Homo sapiens: one gene and its partner. The protein of the gene in region 1 interacts with the protein of each later gene in a biochemical or structural test. Each region holds a gene or a part of one and is shown in the gene's direction. Other genes may lie near its edges.

Region 1 (7,030 bases):
CTGCTCTTAGGCAAACAGAGGAAAGACAAAGCACTTTTCCATATTTGCTTCAAATGGCCTTTAGCCCCAAAAAATTATGTCAAAGAGGAATGTTTTGAGGTGACACATTCTGTTTCCTTCAGTACTCTCGTTGGTGAGTCTCCAGATTCACCTTCATATAAACTTCCCTTGAACACTATAGACATTTTATAATTCTTTATTTCTGCATTTGCTTTGAGATAAGGTCTTTAGTTATTTGTATGATTTTTTTCTGTGGATAACATGGGTAAGATTTTTAAGCTGTTTTTTTGGCTTAAGTAAATAAAAAGTCAAAATAAAAGTCAACAACCCGCTGCCTTTTATGTCAACATTAAGAACTAGAGTTCTTACATTGCTTTTGCAGTGCAATGTAATGCATTGTATCCTTTTCTAACAAGACTGCAGAAAAATATTATCTGATAAAAAATATGTATTCAATCACCTTTCTTTTCTTTATCAGGTATGGTATAGAGCAGTTTAAAAAATTAAAATTTATGTAATTATTGTATAAATATTGTACAAATTATTGTATAAATTTTCAGATACACCAAAGTGGAGACTATTGTTAAAATATCTGTGTCTCCCACTGACTGCAGTAATAGAGAATTTCTTCTTGGGTTTTAGATTTCCTCCTTCTTCACCCCTGAAACCATATCCAAAGAAGCCCCCAAACCAAAAGGATGTTATTAAATTTCCAGAATGGAATGATCTCCCACCAGGCACTTCACAAGAGAACATCCCAGTGAGGCCAGTTGTGATGGTAAGTGCCATGACTGAAAGATGGAAGGGCTGGCAGCAGGGAGAATCATCCATGAACTCCTAGGCTTGGTCTTTCTGTGGTCCTTTATGAACAATAATTTAAAGGTACTTTAAAACAAAATTGTACCTGCCAACAGCTGGGAGACCAGTAACAAGGAAAGAATGACTCTTGCAGTTTTTCACTCTTGCATGTAAATAGTTGTTGTACTGTATTGTTTAGGGCAGCAGTCCCCAACCTTTTTGGCACCAGCGATGGGTTTCATGGAAGACAATTTCTCCATGGACCAGGGCTGCTGGGGTGGGGGTGGGGGTGGTTTCGGGATGATTCAAGTGCATTACATTTATTGTGCATTTTATTTATATTATTATTACATTTTAATATATAATGAGATAATTATGCTACTCACCATAATATAGAATCAGTGGGAGCCCTGAGCTTGTTTTCCTGTAACTAGATGGTCCCATCTGGGGATGATGGGAGACAATGACAGATCATCAGGCATTAGATTCTCATAAGGAGCACACAACTTAGATCCCCCAGATGCACAGTTCACAAAAGGGTTCACGCTCCTATGAGAATCTAATGCGGCCGATCTGACAGGAGGTAGAACTCAGGCAGTATGTGAACAACAGGGAGCTGCTGTAAATACAGATGAAGCTTCACTCACTTGCCCAACGCTTACCTCCTCCTGTGCAGCCTGGTTCCTTATAGGCTATGGACTGATACCAGTCTGTGGCCTGTGGGTTGAGGACACCTCGTTCAGGGAATAACAAGAAGAAGAAAATGCTACATGTTCAGTACAGATGCAACCATCCATTTTTTTCCTCTGAATATTTTCAATCTGTGGTTGGTTGAATCCATAGATGCAGAACCCATAAATACAAAGAGTCAATTGTATATGGCAGCTGTTTTTATATGTTCAGACTGAGCAGGTTTCTGTTAAAACTCTCTTGTAATCCCCTTTTCCTGTACATTCTATAACTTACTACTCTTCTTCCTCTTTGTCTCTTCCTCCTAAACTGTTATTATTGCCAGTTGAGGGTAAGAAGGTTAGGATGTGGAATATTGTGTACTAGCCCCTGACCAAATATATAAGCAAAGGTAGATTCTTCTAGTCTTAGAAAACCGAAGCTCATTGTAGAATTGACTGCCTCTTTTTTTCACATTTTTTCCTTAAAATACCCCCAGTAGAAGACCACCAGGACTGAGGTGTAATGCTAAAAAGCAAACAACAAAAAAATTTCTGTTCCTTTTGCCATCTTCAGCTGTCCTTGTGGAGCCTTTTGCAGATGGCTAAGATTTGGGGGCTACTTTCGAACATTGCACTTACTTGATATTTGCTTATAAAAAATAGACAGTCCTCAAAAGTAATACATTTTAATTCCATTTTCAATAATCAGTCTGTACAGTGTATGAATTTAGATATGTATTCCTTAATTTTGAATTGATAACATTTTATTTCACTGCTATTTCACTGATTAGTTGAAACGTCCACAGGAAAAATTAGCTAGTTAATGCCATACTTACTGCCATAGCTCTTTTGTAATTCATGAATATTCATTTATAACATGACCTAGTCTTAAGAATCACTCTTTACTTCTCTGAGGTCCATGTAAAGAAAGTTAGTTTATATTTCTAATTATTATTTTAAATCAAGTTACAAGTAACCAAATCAAAGACATTTCTCATAAAAATCCCACCACCTTATATTGAAATATTTATTCACTGTCTTTCTACCGTTTCTCCTTCCCTCCCTTCTTACATCCCCCCTCCATTAGAATTCTGAGATGTGGTACAAGCGTCACAGTATTGCAATTGGAGAGGTGCCAGCTTGCCGTCTTGTCCACCGCAGACAGCTGACAGAGGCCAATGTAGAAGAGATATGGAAGTCTATGACATTATCATAGTATGTACATTTGATATTAATGAGAAATTTTAGAGATATTGTTTCCTATTTTGCTACTTCTTCACTCTCTGCATATTTAATTTTCTGAAATTATGTATAAAAATCTCAACTTTGCATTATTTGCAGTTGTGATCAGCAAACATAGTTTAACTGAATTCTGGGGATTATCTCCTGCTATTTACATAATAGTTAGGAGTTTAAAAGTTCTTAAGAGTAATAAGACACATAATAGAAAATTTGGTCTCCTAGATACTGATGTACTGTATGTATAAAGTTAACAATCATATACAGCAAAATTTTGTTCCTCATGAAGATATGCTAATAGTAGTTTCTTATCATTGGATAAGTTAGTTTTTATGTTGTAGTATTTTTACTTACAAAATTACTTTCTTGTCATTTGGTGTGTTACTAAATCTGTGAAGCAAAATGTTAATAGCAAAAGGATATCTTTTACATTTGTTTTATTGTACTCCATTTCTACCCTTTTTGCCCCGCAAAGATTGGGTGCAATGCATGAAAATAAAGCATTATAAAGATTGATTTTTTGTAGTACCAGGTTTTTGAGTAAATATAATATTAAAGACAGAACTAATTAATATAATTACTTATCTTTTAGCTTACAGAAAATTCTTGGCCTGGATTCCTTAGAAGAAGTTTTAGACGTCAAACTTGTCAATTCGAAGTTCATCATCCATAATGTATATAGTGTTAGCAAGCAGGGAGTTGTTATTCTTGATGACAAGTCAAGTAAGTGCATAAATATAATTTTGTTACTTATTGACATAATATATTGGCTGCACAGGTCCATCAGCTCCTTTCTGACCCTTCCCTAAACCCTGAATAAGTTTGTTCCTTCATTACGTATATTCTTTCTAATACCTTTTAACAAATTGTTTGGAATAAGGGAATGTCATAGGAAGATGAGTATCTAGGAATGAGAGCCTCAGCAAAATCCATCCAGAAGCTAGTTCAGTGTTAGCCACCTTGGGCATTAAGTGGTTTCGTATTCCCAGGGAAATCTCTGAAAAGTGAGAATATTCAAGACATAACCAAGAGTTAGAGTCAGTTTTCAGGTGGGCCCTGGGGTCTGACTGCATTTAGAATTCTCACGTTTTTGTTTTGGCTTCTCTGTGTTAGATTTTCTGGAATAGTCTTGGTTCTTTTTAATAAGGTAGTTTTTGAAATGTTGATATTGCTTTGATTTTTTATATTTCCCACCCTAGACCAGTTTACAAATCAGAAAAAACAAACAAACAAACAAACAAAAGAACCATATAACAGCCACCTAACATGGTTTTTGGTTTGTAAAAATGTGGTTAGGGTACTGATAGTGGACCACAGTCCCCACACTGATTTTAAATCTTTCTGTGGATAAGGACCAGATTTGGATGGGCTCATTGATTTGTTCTTCCTTTAGTTCAAACCCTCGATGCTGGGAATTGGCTGGAACTTGATGATCTTTGGATGTGGGAAGATGGCATAATACTTCTTGACTTTTTAAAAATATGATTAAATTTAGGGCTGGAGGCTCCTGGGAAGCAGACAGAATGTAGCAGAATAGCCTGAGCAGTGGTGAGAGGGGAAGAGATTTTTCTATGCCATGTTTCCTGACAGGAGCAGAACCTGTCTTCAGACCTGAAACACTTCTCCTTTTATAGTCACTATATGAGGAATGGAGGACAATGAGAGACAAATAAGTTTGTGGTGACTTTATGAGTTTTGAGGTTAATATCAACATATAAAATTAAGTTCCATAGAATGAAGGGAAGAGTGCAGCCTTTGAAATACATCTAAAATTCTTCCACATTCTCTGAGTGTAGCAAATTAATATTTTTAGTTATCAGTTAGATGATCAATCATCTTTCATTTTATTAAGTAAGATCTTAAGAAAGAAGAGAGCATTTTACAAGACTCCAGTTCATTAGATCTAACACAATTCAACAAGTGTCTTCGCAGTTTTACAGAAATAGAGAAGATGAAGTGGCAGCCTGAGTGCTAGCCCATCTCATCAGATGTCTGTGGCAGGGCGTGGAGGGAAGAGATTCTGTACCAAATGGTTCAGCTGGGATTTTTTTTGTAGCAATGTTCAGTTACTATTATTTAAAGGTTGTCCTAATACTAATAGCCTAACATTAATATGTCAGTGGAACTTTCTTGGCCTAAAGCATTTTGAAAATGGAAACATGTAAAATGATACTTATATTGGACCTACAGAATTACCCTTTTTGAGGGGCTGGTGGTGTTTGATGAACTTGTTTCACAAATGTGTTTGACGACTAATATTTTTTCTTTTCTTTTTCTTTTTGTAATTCTTAAAATAATTGGTTTGTCTTTTGGTTTGTTTGTTTGTTTGGAGCAAACTATACATTTTTTTCTTTTTACTATAGCTTTAAAAAGGTGCATTGTGTCCTTAGAGAAATCTGTAGGCATTATTTATGTAAGTGCATGTTATAACACTGCTGACAAGGAAAGGTTTCCATCTTTTAAATGTTCTAATAACATAAATTGGTGATTTGTGATTAGCAGATATGGTTCATATTACTTGGGCAAGTAATACATTCTTATGATACCAAGTATGTATATGATGTCTTGAGTTATATGGAATTGAGTACAAATTTTCTTTTTCCTTCAGAAGAACTTCCTCATTGGGTGCTGTCAGCTATGAAGTGTTTGGCAAATTGTAAGTACTAATTATCTGCCAGTTTTGTGAAATTAACAGAAATTAGTGCCCTAAATTAGGAAAAATTTCTGCTCAATGGCCTGAACATTGATGTGACACCTGTGAGACTGGCAGTTAATTATTTTGGGACTACTGTGCTTTTAGTGATAAATTTGTGACTTAGTGAAAGGACTGAATTCTAGAACAGTTTTAAAGGGATTTAGTACTTCTACTTTCTAGTAGATCCATCCACACTAGTTCTAATTGCTTCATCACAGGATGAAGGATGGTTTGGAAGGAGAAGAACCTGCCATGTAGAGAAATGAGAAAGACTGTTTCAGTAATTTGGATGTTAGATGAGAGGGCCTGGACCAGGGTGGTCCCTGTGAGGATTTTTATAGGTATATGAAATCCATTTCATAGGCATGTGATTTCCATATCATTGAATATCATAGGCACTGTGAAGGCATTAGTTGTTATAGTATCTCAGAAACACTACCATTCTTCTGGGAATTTTCACAAGGGTTAACCCAAAGAAGGGATTCTAATGATTAATGGCTTAACCCAAACAAATAATTTTGATGGAAAGAGTTCTAGTTATTTTGGCTGACTGATAATAGTGATATTTGGTCTGGAGTGCCTTTTGAGTCTCACAGATACCACAAGGTAGTAGTTCATTTTCATTTCTTTTGTACGGAACTAGCACTACAGATATAGGTGAAAATTCCCTTTAAATTCGTGAATTAGTAAACCCTAAAACATGGGTTTAACTGAAATTAGTTTTGTTTGATTATAGAATGAAACTAAAATAACTCTTAAGCTTAATGTGGGGAATCTTAGTAGTAGTATATGGAACATGATCCTATGATTTTGAATAGCCTTTTGAAGATGAATGCTATTCATTCATTCTATACTATCCTTCTGTATATGAATAGTAACCATTGGTTTGTGTGAAGCCCAAGGTTCTCTGAGTTTAACTGTTAACATTTTCATTGGTTTTTGGTTAAAATTTGGAGCCTCTGAGATGCAGAGTACTATGGTCTTAGCTTGGGGAAGTGCTTTTTTTTCTTCCTGCTCAGGCATTTGAAGTCAATGAAATTTAAATTACATCCTTGTCTAGGGTTGACAATGATGAGATAGAGAGTATAAATGAGAAGTTAAACTTCCCATTTCTGAACTGGCAAATCAAGGTTTTAGAAGTTCATCAGGCCAGGTGCGGTGGCTCACGCCTGTAATCCCGGCACTTTGGGAGGTCGAGGTGGGTGGATCACAAGGTCAGGAGATGGAGACCATCCTGGCTAACATGGTGAAACTCCGTCTCTACTAAAAATACAAAAAAAATTAGCTGGGCTTGGTGGCGGGCGCCTGTAGTCCCAGCTACTTGGGAGGCTGAGGCAGGAGAATGGCATGAACCCGAGATTGTGCCACTGCACTCCAGCCTGGGTGACAGAGCAAGACTCCGTCTCAAAAAAAAAAAAAAAAAGAAGTTGATCAGCTAGGAATGAACATAGGAAGCTAGTATAACCAATCTAGTCTGTAATATGTTGTAAAATATATAGTAAGATGTTTATGATGTTGAATTTTCAATGATTACTGAAATGTAGTAAAGAACATAATTTTCCCTCAAGCAGCATGTGCACCGAAAGCCAAAAAATTTCTGCAGAAAGCTTAGAATAACTGGAATTTC
Region 2 (7,030 bases), on another chromosome or scaffold:
GACCCCCGAGGACCTGCCCAGCGGCTTCCCCCAAAACCTGCATGTGACAGGACTGACCACGTCTACCACAGAACTGGCCTGGGACCCGCCAGTGCTGGCGGAGAGGAACGGGCGCATCATCAGCTACACCGTGGTGTTCCGAGACATCAACAGCCAACAGGAGCTGCAGAACATCACGACAGACACCCGCTTTACCCTTACTGGCCTCAAGCCAGACACCACTTACGACATCAAGGTCCGCGCATGGACCAGCAAAGGCTCTGGCCCACTCAGCCCCAGCATCCAGTCCCGGACCATGCCGGTGGAGCAAGGTGTGTGCTGTGGACATGGCATCCCTTCCCGAGTGTGGCTGCATCTGGGGGTCTCTGCTCTCCTTGAGCCACTGACCTCTGGCGACTGTGATCCACCAGCCTCTGGTGTGTGACCTCCAATCTCTCATGACTGTGACCACTAACCTCTAGTGAATGGGCACCACATTCTTGATGCCTGACCTCTGCTGTCCTTAACCTACTGACCTCTGCTGTATGACCTTCTGATCTCTTGTGACCTTGACCCACTGATCTCTTTTGACTGTGTCACTATTCTTGGGTGTGCAACCTCCTGATCTTTGGTGTGTGACACTAATCTCTTGGGGCCATGACCCACCGACCTCTAGTGAACATGCTCCACCACGCTCTGGTGTGTGGCCACATGCTTCTCATGACCGAAACCCACTGACCCTCTGATCACTCTGGCCTGGTGTCCATCGGCTCAAGCTTTTACACTCGCGTTTCTGGAGATTCTGACCCTGGTTGCTGTGGCATCCCCCGCCCTGTTTGGTGCTCACTGTGGAAGAGCTTGGGCTGGGAGTTCAACTGTGCCGTTTGAAGCTGGCTGGGAGTGGGGCGCTTGGTACTCTGCAGCCATCCTTCAACCCCCTGTTCCCCAACCAGTGTCTCATCCTGGCCATTCACCTTCCACCCTTCCAGCCCATTCACCCCACCTCATATACCCAGCAGAGCTGACTCTCTCTATGCCTTTGCAGTGTTTGCCAAGAACTTCCGGGTGGCGGCTGCAATGAAGACGTCTGTGCTGCTCAGCTGGGAGGTTCCCGACTCCTATAAGTCAGCTGTGCCCTTTAAGGTGAGTAAGGGCCACGGCCAGCTGAGCCTGGCACACACACAGGCCTGCTGGGTGCTGTCTTTCCAGTCCTAACCCATGTGCATCCGGCTGTGGAGCAGGAATGTGGTTGTGTATCCGTGCACTGTGCCTTGCAGCCCGTGGTAGGGAACCTCACCCAAAGGCATTGATTGCCCCTCCCGTCCCCCACAGATTCTGTACAATGGGCAGAGTGTGGAGGTGGACGGGCACTCGATGCGGAAGCTGATCGCAGACCTGCAGCCCAACACAGAGTACTCGTTTGTGCTGATGAACCGTGGCAGCAGCGCAGGGGGCCTGCAGCACCTGGTGTCCATCCGCACAGCCCCCGACCTCCTGCCTCACAAGCCGCTGCCTGCCTCTGCCTACATAGAGGACGGCCGCTTCGATCTCTCCATGCCCCATGTGCAAGACCCCTCGCTTGTCAGGTGTGCACACGAGGTATCGGGGGAGGCGGGGCAGGGCTGGAGGTAACCAGCAGTGACAGTCCTGATTCCTGCCCTGCCCACCCAGGTGGTTCTACATTGTTGTGGTGCCCATTGACCGTGTGGGCGGGAGCATGCTGACGCCAAGGTGGAGCACACCCGAGGAACTGGAGCTGGACGAGGTACCTGGGGAGGGGATGGGGACACTGACAGCCCCATTGCAGTGGTCAGCTGTGGCCTTCCTGCCCTGAGCACTGTCCCAGTGACTCTCAGATTCACTCCCCAAATTGAAATCTCTCTTCTGGCTGGCAGCCCGCCCCTCTCTGGAGAGAGGGACTCTGAGGAAACCATCTGGGAGTATTCACAGAACTCCCGGAGGGCTTACGAAGAATCCCTGGGGTGGGATGTCGTGGAGATGCCTCTGCAGGTCTAGAGAATGCCAAGCCCTGTAGACACTGCAGAGCCTCGCAGATCTAGAAGCTATGGAGGGCTTAGTGAGCCTTATAGCCAGGAGTCCCTGAATGTTTGAAATCCTTCAGTCCTTTCTCATAGCCAGTGTGGCAACAGCCTGGTTAGGGTGGGGCAGCTTACACACAGGGCTGCTTCTCATGGGCTGGTGGGGAGGAGTGGCTTCACGGTGTCTGTTACTCTGTAGGGGCAGTGGGTTGGGCAGGTGTGGGCTCTGACACGGAAGGTGAGCCTTGATCTCGGCCCAGGGAGCTGACATCCCAGGCCACAGCCTCAGGGCTGGCCGGCATGCTCCAAGGCCCCTCATGACCCCCATGCTCTGCTCTGCCAGCTTCTAGAAGCCATCGAGCAAGGCGGAGAGGAGCAGCGGCGGCGGCGGCGGCAGGCAGAACGTCTGAAGCCATATGTGGCTGCTCAACTGGATGTGCTCCCGGAGACCTTTACCTTGGGGGACAAGAAGAACTACCGGGGCTTCTACAACCGGCCCCTGTCTCCGGACTTGAGCTACCAGTGCTTTGTGCTTGCCTCCTTGAAGGAACCCATGGACCAGGTCTGCCTGAGCCGGCTTGGCTGTCAGCACCCTGATTCCCTGGGCCTGGCCTGAGACGATGCCAGTCTCAAACACCACAAGACCCCAGGTCTTTATCAGTTTGGGGGCTTCGAGATCCTGGGGCAGCACTAAAGACCCAAGATCTGTCCCGGGGATCCTAAGACGCGGCCCTGGGACCCAGAGGCCAGACCTAATGTGGCTCCAGGGACCCAGTCCTGCCAGGTCCACCTTGTAGGGTCTGGGAGACCAGGCCCAGGGTAACCCAGACCCAGAGCCCTTTCTCCAGGATTAATAGGCAGAGGGTGGGGGGTTCTCACGCTGAGCTCACAGCCTGCTGTTCTCCACCGGGCCACAGAAGCGCTATGCCTCCAGCCCCTACTCGGATGAGATCGTGGTCCAGGTGACACCAGCCCAGCAGCAGGAGGAGCCGGAGATGCTGTGGGTGACGGGTCCCGTGCTGGCAGTCATCCTCATCATCCTCATTGTCATCGCCATCCTCTTGTTCAAAAGGTGAGCACTGCCCTCAGAGCTCCGGGAACGGCCACCTGCCCCTCGCCTTTCAGGCCCTCTCCGGGTGTGGTGCCTGTGGAGAGCGTGCAGCCTTGCATCCTGGACCCTGAGCCTCAGGCTCAGCAGGAAGGCAGGAAGGGCAGGAGCAGTGTGTGTGCCTACCTGTGTCTGCAGGCCTGCATCTGTCAGGTGAGGGAGCCTCTGCAGCAGCCTGGGCGTGAGGAACTAAAGCCTCAGAGGGTTGTCTCATGTGCATCCCTGGCACGTCTGTCTGTCTCTGTGTTTCTGTGGATAAGAGTGCGTCTGTCTCCTCTTCAGTTTTAAGACACCGCCATCTCCTGAGCTCCTACCTCGAGTCCTTTCCTTCTGCCACCATTCCTGGATGATTCCCCAGCCCTACTCTCCTGCTTAGGCCTAGAGAGGTCGAGCTGGAGGCCCACAGGCCATGGATGCTCACTAACAGACATGACTGATGGCCTGCTGTGCCCGTGCCATCCGCAGCGGCCTCAGCCTCAGTGTGTCTTTCCCACTCAGTTCTCTATCGGCAGTGGCCACCACCTGCCCTAGGAGTCTCCCTTCCTATCCGTGCACCTTCCAGCCTGAAAGGGATTTCCAAAGATTTAACTTTGTCACTCTCAGTTTAAAACCTTTTGATGGCTGCCCACGTAAAGCCCACCCTCTTTAGCCTGACAGCCAAACACCTGGCTAATCTGACCCCTGCCACACTCCTGACATTGCGACACTGAACTCATTCAGTGTTCAGGCCCACACAGGGTGTGCCCTCTGCGGATCTCCCTCCCCCTGCCCACTTGGCAACAGCAATCTCATCGTTCAGGACTCAAGTCCATGCTCTGGTGCCTGCAAGGCCTTGCCTGGCCCCTACCCCTTCCTTGCACAGCTGTCCCCTGTGATGCTCCACTGCAAACGCAGCTGGGCCTGTGTGCCAAGCCTTCAGCCCCCAGCACTGGGCTGAGCCCACAGGCATGTCAGTGAGCACCTGGCAGATGAAGATATGCTAGTCTGTGTGTCTGAGCACATCTCTGCACCATGCAGGAGAGCCTGTATCCTGTGTGCCTACCCTGGACCCACTGTTCCTTCCTAAAGAGTCCACTCCTTCCTCCCAGGGTGGATGGACCTGTGGGCGGGTCCCTAAGGAGTGTCCCACAGATGCACTCATCCTTCCCACTTCCACCTGCATTCTGGGTCTGTCCAGAGAGGTAGACCCCCTCCCTGTGAATGTCATGTGGGTGCCATATAAGGGGCCTGCAGGGTCCCCATGTCATTAGAGGGCTGAGTGCTTGGTGGAAACTGTGACCGTTCCTTTCTTCTGTCCTTGCTTGTCTTTCGGGACCTAGTAAACAAGAAAGGTAGGAGTTGTTCCTTCTCTCTTCACACACCTCCCCCTCTACTTCTAATCCTTGGGCCAGCAGGGAGGGATGACGCTTTGACCAGAAGTCCCCTGGCCTATGGCTTTAAGCAGCAAACTGTCCAGTCAGCTCAGCAGGCTCCCTGGTTCAGGACTGAGTCCTCATTGGTGTGAGGAGGCAGTTTCTGTCTCACTCTTGCCAGTTCAACTCTGCAGAGGATGCTTCTTCTCTGGGGCACATACATAATACAGACTGCATTGCTTTCCCTGAGCGTACAGAGCTCACCAGAACCATCACCCGGCTCCCAGTTCTCTGAGAAGTTGCCTAAGTGCTGCGAGAGACAGTCTCGCACAGAGCAAAGAGCAGTCACTGTGTGGAACAGCAGAGAGGCATGTCCTTGTACCCACCTGAGCACACTCACTCAAATTCTTCTTTCCGAAGCACATGCGTCTGCAGACCACAAGTAGCCTCTGGCTATTTGTTGGCAGCTGAATCCTATGGTCTGTCTCTGACCCTGTCCTTGTAGATGGGAAAACTGAGGCCAGTGAGAGAGGACTCTGCCCAGCTAGGGTGACGCCTTTCCCGTCCCTCCCCTGCTGCCCTGGGCATTTACCCTGATACTCTGAGGGCCAAAAAGCTGGGGCCCTGTCTCCTGTGCTGTTTGTGTATTTTATGTGTCATTTGCATGTTTGTTCCCGGTGGTTCCTGCTACTCAGCTGGGTGGCCTTGGAGATAGCAGTCACTGTCCTGCAGTGACCTGCCTTCTATCCAAAGGAGCTGCTCGCCCCTGCAACCCCTTCCTCCCTGCTGCACTGCCCCTCTGCTCACGCCACACTCCTGCTCTCCCTACCCCCTCCCTGCCCTGTGTTCTCTCATGTCAAGGCTGTTCTGGCCCTGGCTCCTCCGCGCTCAGAGATCCTGGGAAGAGGTGGGGCAGTAGGAGGACAGAGCCGTGGACATGGGGGCTCCTTGGCAGCCAGCCATGCCATGTGTCACTGTCTCAGCCTGGACCTCAGGTTCTCACCAGCCTCCCTTCTGTCTCTCTAGGAAAAGGACCCACTCTCCGTCCTCTAAGGATGAGCAGTCGATCGGACTGAAGGACTCCTTGCTGGCCCACTCCTCTGACCCTGTGGAGATGCGGAGGCTCAACTACCAGACCCCAGGTAGGGCACTCCTATGGCCTGTGTGCCCCCAGCCCAGACCTAGCAGGCCTGTGGGTCTGTTCTGCAGGTCTCAGGGTCGCCACTGAAGTTCCTGGGCCGCATGCACTTGTTCCTGCTCCTTTTCTTCCTTTCTGCCCTTCTCCCTGTGCTCATCCACTTTGGTTGGAATGACTGGGGAGCCCCCATATCCTGCAGCTGGACAGGTGCCCCAGGCCAGGACCCTCTTAGGTGGCAAAGCCACTTAGCCACTGCCTTGTCTTCAGTCAAGGCCTCTGAATATGGGCTGAGGACCTCCCAGAGCCCACGTCTCTGCCACAGGGTGGCCAGTGTCTGGCGCACGCTCTGACGCCTCCACATGAAAGAGGGGCATGTTAGCAGTGGGAGATGCCTCACCAGACATCTGTGGGGAGATGAAGTGCCTGCACCTGAGCCTTCCTGGAGGCCGACCCCAGGTTTACCATACCACGTACCTGCCCCTTCTCCTAGCCACTCTCATGGGGCTGTCCACCTCTTCCTTCTACCTGAAATGTTACTCCTCCCAACACCCAGCAGACACAGCTCAGACCTCTCCTCTTGCCCACACCCCCACAGGGTTAGGTGTCTCTTCTTGGCTCCAGGAACCTCCCTCCTTCTTCCTTTTGACGCCTCTCACAGTGAGCTGGGATTACCTCAGTGACAGTCTCTGAGCTCTGTGGTGCCAGGAACTGTGTCTTGTCATCCCCCATCCCTTGTATTCAGCGCACGATGGGTTCTTGTTGAATGCCTGTGAAATGAACACACAGACAAATGAAGGAATGAGTGAACTAATGCATACACACAGGGTTTGTGTATGTATGAGCTGGTTATTCTGCATGTCAAATTACCCCAAAACTTAGTGGCTTAAAACAACAATAATTATGTATTATCTGTCACAGTTTTTGTGAGGCAGGAATTCAGACAGGGGCACAGCAGGAACAGCTTGTCTTTATTCCAGAAAGTCTGGGCCCTCAGCCGGAAGACTTGAAGGCTGGGAGCTAGAGTCATTTAAAGCAGGGGTTGGCAGACTATGGCCCGTGGCCAAGTACAGCCCACCACCTGTTTTTGTAAATAAATTTTTACTGGCTGGGCGTGGTGGCTCATGCCTGTGATCCCAGCACTTTGGGAGGCTGAGCCGGGTGGATCACCTGAGGTCAGGAGTTCGAGACCAGCTAATGAAATCCCATCTCTACTAAAAGTACAAAAATTAGCCAGGTGTGTGGCCCCTGTCATCCCAGCTACTCAGGAGGCTGAGGCAGGAGAATCACTTGAACCCAGGAGGTAGAGGTTGCGTGAGCCAAGATCGTACCATCGCATTCCAGCCTGGGTGACAAGAGCAAAACCCCATCTCAAAAATAAACAAATAAATAAAATTCTACTGGAACAGACACACCC

What was found. Proteins that work in one complex are often made in the same cells at the same time.
Region 2: the proteins of DEPDC1B (region 1) and PTPRF form a complex in vitro, tested with the Homo sapiens proteins (one study listed by BioGRID).

The regions. Positions count from the first base shown.
Region 1 is NC_000005.10:60,641,146-60,648,175, reverse strand, and holds part of DEPDC1B (DEP domain-containing protein 1B), read left to right. Parts: intron 1-642; coding exon 643-778; intron 779-2,556; coding exon 2,557-2,684; intron 2,685-3,300; coding exon 3,301-3,431; intron 3,432-5,316; coding exon 5,317-5,364; intron 5,365-7,030.
Region 2 is NC_000001.11:43,603,879-43,610,908, forward strand, and holds part of PTPRF (receptor-type tyrosine-protein phosphatase F isoform 1 precursor), read left to right. Parts: coding exon 1-311; intron 312-1,024; coding exon 1,025-1,122; intron 1,123-1,311; coding exon 1,312-1,565; intron 1,566-1,650; coding exon 1,651-1,744; intron 1,745-2,361; coding exon 2,362-2,580; intron 2,581-2,935; coding exon 2,936-3,090; intron 3,091-4,445; coding exon of another isoform or gene 4,446-4,457; intron 4,458-5,504; coding exon 5,505-5,620; intron 5,621-7,030. UniProt on the Homo sapiens protein: Possible cell adhesion receptor. It possesses an intrinsic protein tyrosine phosphatase activity (PTPase) and dephosphorylates EPHA2 regulating its activity.